Homo sapiens: one gene and its partner. The protein of the gene in region 2 purifies or fractionates together with the protein of the main gene of each other region. This does not show direct contact. Each region holds a gene or a part of one and is shown on either strand. Other genes may lie near its edges.

Evidence for each region. Proteins that work in one complex are often made in the same cells at the same time.
Region 1: the proteins of BANK1 (region 2) and ITPR1 purify together in Homo sapiens (affinity purification with western blotting, with the first as the bait; one study listed by BioGRID). This does not show direct contact.

The regions. Positions count from the first base shown.
Region 1 is NC_000003.12:4,839,348-4,842,847, reverse strand, and holds part of ITPR1 (inositol 1,4,5-trisphosphate-gated calcium channel ITPR1), read right to left. Parts: intron 1-3,500. UniProt on the Homo sapiens protein: Inositol 1,4,5-trisphosphate-gated calcium channel that, upon inositol 1,4,5-trisphosphate binding, mediates calcium release from the endoplasmic reticulum (ER).
Region 2 is NC_000004.12:101,832,230-101,835,729, reverse strand, and holds part of BANK1 (B-cell scaffold protein with ankyrin repeats), read right to left. Parts: intron 1-3,500. UniProt on the Homo sapiens protein: Involved in B-cell receptor (BCR)-induced Ca(2+) mobilization from intracellular stores. Promotes Lyn-mediated phosphorylation of IP3 receptors 1 and 2.

The sequences.
Region 1 (3,500 bases), on a different chromosome or scaffold from region 2:
AAACAAATATAATGACCAAAGTCTATCCTTAGCATTTTTGTCAGATAATAGTCTCTCTGGACATCTGAAACAAAATTGACTCTTGAGTAAAAAAAATCTATGGTAACTGTATTCAAAATTCTAATATTGAAACATCTATTTTGAGTAGTGTGAGATGTCTCATTTATAGTACATTTAAAAATCCTCAAAACGGCTGGGCATGGTGGCTCACTCCGTAATACCAGCACTTTGGGAGGCAGATCACTTGAGGCCAGGAGTTCGAGACCGGCCTGGCCAACATGGTAAAACCCCATCTCTACTAAAAATACAAAAATTAGCCAGGCATGGTGGTACATGCCTGTAATCCTAGCTACTTGGGGGCCTGAAGCAGGAGAATCACTTAAACCTGGGAGGTGGAGGCTGCAGTGAGCTGAGATCGTGCCACTGCACTCCAGCCTGGGCAACACAGGGAGACTCCGTCTCAAAAACAAAACAAAGCAAAAAACCCAAACCAAACCTCAAAATTCCCATGTAGCTAAGGATAAACAGTTGTAGTAATGCTGTTCTTCACATCTATACAAATGTAGAAACTAGCTTGAATTTCAGCATTCCTCCTTTTGACTCATCTAAACAAGAAGCAAAGAATAGTGTAGCTTTACAAGTCAGATACAGCCAGACATCTGAAAGACTGTTCATGAAAACACGAGGCATACAGTAGAAATGGGCAAATTTTAATCTACCAGTATTGCCTCTAAATGATTAAAGGCTGGCACTGGAAGGAAAGTTCATTGACAGCACACAAATGCCACATTTCTGGTTTATAACACATCTTAATAGTCTTTGAAAAGCTGCTTTCATGTTACAGGAAGGTCTTGGTTACTCAGATTCTAAACAGCTAGCAAATTCTAGTAATCACAGTTATTTTCTACAGCCCTATAAAATCAGTCATGTTCAGAATGATGAGCCTCAAATACTGAGAAATGAAACCAAACCATCCCTTGAATACAAATATGTTGATTTACTATCAATGTATAGATACAATTCAGATTCTTAGAGTTGATCTCAAATGCTCTGTTTCTCTCTATTTCACCTGGCCAACTCTTACTCAGGCTTTGAAACCAAGCTCCTGAATTACCACCTCTGAGAAGACTTCTGTGGTAATTACTCTAATCCTCTCCCGAAGATCAGATTGAACAAATCACTCCCTTTTCTCCATTCCCAGAGCAATGTGTTCACAGCTCGGTTACACACTCACCAAGTTTAATTATAATTGATCTGTTTACTTGTTTCCCACTCTAGACTTTTAGTTCTTGAAGGCAGAGAAGAGGATCTATTCATCTTTGTAGCCCCAGTACCTAATGCCGCACCTGGCAAACAGGTGTTTCATATGTGTTGGCTGAAAGAAGGAACGGAATTAACCAGACCATACTGCCATTCCTTGAGCATGCCATGCATTTTCATGCCGTTGCTCATGCTGATTCCTTTCCTGGGAAGCCCCCTACTGCATTTCTCTGCCAGCTCAGAAGTCACCTGCTTGTAAGATTATAAAAGCTAAACTCCTTCTGCACTGCAAACTTCACACAGGACCACTACCTACCTACTTCTTTGTGCTCCATGAAACTATTCATGCCTCAAGTCATTCATACTGTATCAGATTGCTAGAGGTCTACTTCTTTGTCTTTCTTGCTAGATCCTGGATCTAGAGGGCAGATGTTGACTTAGTCTTCTTTTGTGGTCCCAGCACAGTATAAGGAACATAGATGCAGTACGGGTCGTTTAATATTCCATTTTCCAACTTTGGGCAGTTATTCTAATCTTGTGTTATGCCTTCTGTCCTTAAGCAGTTAATGTTAGCAAGATAACCCTCTTGTATGAAAAATGCCAAATGCTGTAACATGCTAATGTGATCTGAATTTTCAAGCACTTCTTGTATTCCTAGCAACAGCAAATAATGGTCGCTGTCCTATAGGAAGCCAGTCATATTTTCAAGAAAGTTAGCCCTTCTTAGTATTTGCTCTTTTGCATTATGAAGAAAACATGCAAAAGATTTTTAAGTTCTTACATTAGTTCTCCTCCTTGGAATAAGAATGTAAGAGAATCACATTTAGTGTTCAGAATCTCTTGGGAGGGGAAACTTCAAGATGAGAGGCATCGTTAAATAATACTTAGAATAGCAATCCTAACCAACCATTCTTGGCAATAATAGAAAAAGTGACACCACTAACCATAATTTTACTAATATCCTAACAAGAACTTTTTTCCCTCAGATTGATACATAACGAAACAATCAAAGAGGTAAATAACAGTAAAGATTTAGACCAAAGTCATCCACATTTAAGCTATCGTTGCTCGAGTCTGCTGGTTTTTGAATCAGAAAATCTAAAACAAACAACAACAACAACAAAACAAAAAAAACCTCTAAGTAATGGAGCAATTTTTGTGTTTTCTAGCACTTTTACTAGTGAATGGTATTCTTTCATAGCTGTTTTAAAAAATATCACAAGATTTCTTGGTCATTAATCATTCATGGAGCTTTTATTTTTTAATTCAAAATTTTTTCCCACAAAGGGCAAGAATTCTCACAATTACTATTTAAGAAAGAGCAGCTCTGTAACATATCTGCATTTTTTAATATCTTTTGCACATAAAGGGTTTTTAAACCTTTATGATTGCTATAACCAAACTTAATGAAATTCAAATCTATTCAACAAGTTGATTCTCAAATGCATTAAAGGTTTGTAGGACGTTACATAATCAAAAGAAAACACTGACTACTTCCTTTTAAAAGATGCAAATCCCCCTGCCCCCTCAAAAAAAAAAAAAAAAAAAAAAAAAAAAAGCAGCTATGCTGAATTTTTCCTGTAATTCTGAGTACCTTAAAACTTAAGTAGATCAATCCTGGTAAAAGCACTTGAGAATGTACTACTGGATTCTCATGCTTCTTTTTAACTTATAATATCTTCCAAGAAAAAAAACAGTTCAAATTCATTCACAGGGGAAGGGCTTTCTGAAGAGTGGTTCCAACTGCCAACTTCAAAATAAAAAATGCATAAAAGGCTGGAATCAAGCAGTTTAAACCATACTGGTTTTAATGTCACTTAATGAACCTTAGTCCATATGTAATCAAATTTTACATATTTTGTTTAAACTAAAACTTTGGCTTATCCAGAATAATCTTATCTTGGATTTTAGAAATGCCAAGTCTCTACTATGCTCACTTGTATAAAATGACAATGAATGTATCCTCCATACCATTTAAGTATATGATGCGACTTGACTTCTGAAACTTCAAGCTTTTTTTTAAAAAAAGAGTAAGAACTTAAACAGTCAACCATGAAAGGCAAACAGTACAGTGACATAACAAAGCAAATAAAAACACACACACACACCCCTGACTGGATGATCAGGAGCTCCTGCCCTGGCAATGCCTAAGAACCTTCTGGGCTCCTTTGGTATCCTCATCAAGAAAATAAGGGAATGAGGTGAGATGGCATCTGAAGTCTCGGATACTGTCCTATACC
Region 2 (3,500 bases):
TCACTGACTAGTTCTAGGAAGGTCCAGTGAGTCAGAGTTCTTAAGCAATACACAGCACAGACAGAAAGAAAGGAAAACAATGCTTCTGCATAGTTTGTTTCTGTTCTGTTGTTTGTTTTGTTTTGCCTTTCCAATAATTCTACTGTTACATTACTATTCATTTTGTCCTTCTTTTAAAAAGTGTAAAATAAAGCTAAAAATTTGAAATCCTTGGTTTGGTAACAGAAAAACAAAATGGAAATGTTAAGGTTCTTCAAGAAAGAGAAGTTTTTCCTGTTAATGGACAATGAAGAAAATATGAGAAAATAAGCCATGGAGAGAGCTGTTGGTAAAGGGTAGCTCAGGGGTTGCAAGCAAACCAGCATGCCTGGTCCAGAAGTGACGGGGGCAGAGTTGAGAACAAAGAACAAGGGAGGACAGAGGCCTTGGAGAGGTGCCAGGATCCTGAAAACCAGAAGGATTCAAGTACATGTTGGTGATATTCAGAAACGGCAGTTGATTTTATAACAATTTCAGATCAGCTTATTTATATCACATATAAACAATGCTGTATGAAGCCTATAAATGTGGAAAGACTAGAAAAGCAAGTTAGGTAAAACACCAAAACTAACAAATAGAAGACAGAAAAAGGAAGGAATGTCATACAAACGATTATAAAACACACAGAAAAGAGTAAATACAGCTGGATTTGTGTTACTCCCAATTTGGGAATTAAGAAGACAGGAAATTTGGTTTTCTTAATTCCTTTAAAGGAAATAAAATACTAGGAGAAAATATAAATTACTGTGTCTTTTAAAAAAATTTTAATGTTAAAAACTTTTCTCTGGAGCCTTGATTAATTATAAAATAGCTTTCTCTTTCTTAAAATTTCCTCTGATTTTTCTTTGTGTTATATTAATATATTAGAACATTTAATTATTTCCATGACTTTCCTGGCATTGTTATCATTCTCTTTTTCATAGCCTGTTTCTGAATAATAAGTTTCCCTTATTCTTTGTATAATTTCTTTATGGAATGAGGAAAAATAGAAAAGGGACAGTAAAATCTGAATTCCACATTCTTTGTCCTATTTCACCCATTTTTTTTTGTACTGATCTCAATTTAAATACAAGACTTTATGTCTTCAACATGATTGGCAACATAAACATAAAATAATTTAGCAGAGCACTTAAGCAAATTTATCACTGCATAGACTACAGCAAATAGAACCAATTTCTTCAAAGGACACAACCCACATATAAAAGTTATTTTATGCAGTTTGGAGATTGCTACCATTTGTAGACTTGGAAATACAACTATATGCTTCTGGTTGCATTCTTGTACCTCAGACAAAAATGCACTATATTTGAACACCCTTTTCCAAATAAGATGGTTATATTTTCCAATTGGCACATCTAAGTTACTCTAAGAAATCAGAGTCCAAAATCAATGTGGGCAGATGAGAGATAATAGTGTCTCCAAAATAGTGCTGTGTTGTCTATAAGGTGTGAGTTTTTCCTCTTACCGAGCATGAATAGAAATATAATTTGAAGACATAGCAGAATACCACTTTCATATCCACCTAAAAATACTCATCATAAAACAAAACAACTGAAACAACAAAAAGGTATATATCAAATATTTTTACATAATAGTGACATTATAGCTCAAGTGGCCAAAACAACATGAGTTCTTTGAATAAATAGAAATTATGGGTGTGGAGAGCCATCTAAAATTTTACTAACAATCTTCAGGGAGAAGAGTAGCATAAACTTACTTGTGCTTTACTGTGATTTAAAAAAATAATTTTCCTATTGTAACACTTTTTTCTTTTCAGTCAAAAAAGTTTAATATACTTGAGGAATACTAAAAAGAGAGAGAGAAAAAGAGATCATAAGAAACTTGAAAACTTCCAGTTTGAACATTATGGTGTACTGTGAATATTTCCCCTTTTTATTCTTGGAAATCATCCCAACACATAGACAATGAGGAAATATTATGCAAATGTCCTACTTAGAGGAAATAGGAAACAGTGAAATCCTAGACCCAAATTCAATGAACTGTTTCCTAAAACAGTGATGATACAGCATGAGGGTGTACAGGAGGAAACAGAGAAAAGACACTTTGAAGAAACAGTCCAGAAGCTGCAGATTTTAAAAAAGAGCCGGCAAACTTACTTCCTATAAGGCTAAGGGTACCTTGTAGATATGAGGCAACAATTTGAGGGAGAAGCATCTATGGAAGCAGTTTGGTTCTAAAAAGCAGACAAAGTGAGGCTAAATTAAGAGCTATACAGAAAAATCATATTACAGAAAGCAGTCTACATCTGTGGAAGCAGAGAAGTACAGTCTTTTATTGTAAAATAACAACAACAATAACAAAACAGAACAAACAACAAAACCCACTCTGTCTATCTCCATTGGCTGGACCAAAAAAAACTCACTTTTCTCAGTGACACATAAGAAAACTTGAGGCCAGGTGCAGTGGCTCACGCCTGTAGTCCCCGCACTTTGGGCGGTTGAGGTGGGTGGGTCACCTGAGGTCGGGAGTTCAAGACCAGCCAGACCAACATGGAGAAACCGAATCTCTACTAAAAATACAAAATTAGCCGGGTATGGTGGCACACACCTGTAATCCCAGCTACTCAGGAGGCTGAGGCAGGAGAATTGCTTGAACCTGGGAGGTGGAGGTTGCAGTGAGCTGAGATTGTGCCATTGCACTCCAGCCTGGGCAACAAGAGCAAAACTCCGTCTCAAAAAAAAAAGAAAGAAACCTGAACAAGCATAGAATCTATATAAAGATACTAAAAGAGAAAAAGTGAGAAAGGGAAGGAGAGAGGGAGGGAAGGAAGGGAGGAAGGGAGGGAAAAAGAAAGCAAAGAAGGAAGGGAGGGAGGGAGGAAAAGAGGAAAGGAGAAAACCAATGGAGATGGGGAGCAAAAACTAAACACGTTACCATAAACAAAGTTGAAAATTGTAACCAAACATTTCACCGTGAATTTTTAAAATGTAATGAATAGAAATCACCTTTTGAAAGCAATTATATAGTGCAGATATGCAAGAAGTTAGAGAGAGGTGAGTGAATTAAGAACAAGAGATGAATTTTAAGTTATAAGTGCTCAACCAAAAGGTACAATGAGAAAAAGTAAAAGTACTATGAAAACGAAAGAGATTGGAAGTAATACAGAGAAAGAGAAACTCATGAAAGTATAAAATGGTAGCAAAAGTTAAAGTGAAAATGCAAACTAAGTTAATTAGATATTAATAGACTCAAAGGGATTAGAGAGAAATTGTAGAGTGCAGTGCAGACTAAAGAAATCCAAAATACATAAAAAAGGAGTCCCTGAAAAATAAACCGTAAACTTAGATATAAGTTAAGAAATTCTTCATGAAATAAAAGAAGACTTGACTCTACATTTTGGGAAAAAGATACAAACAAAAATAAGAAAGCATGTCCCTGGGAAAAATAATCCAGAATAGTCAGCACTAAAATATTCTAGTAAAGTCACTAAACTTCAACTA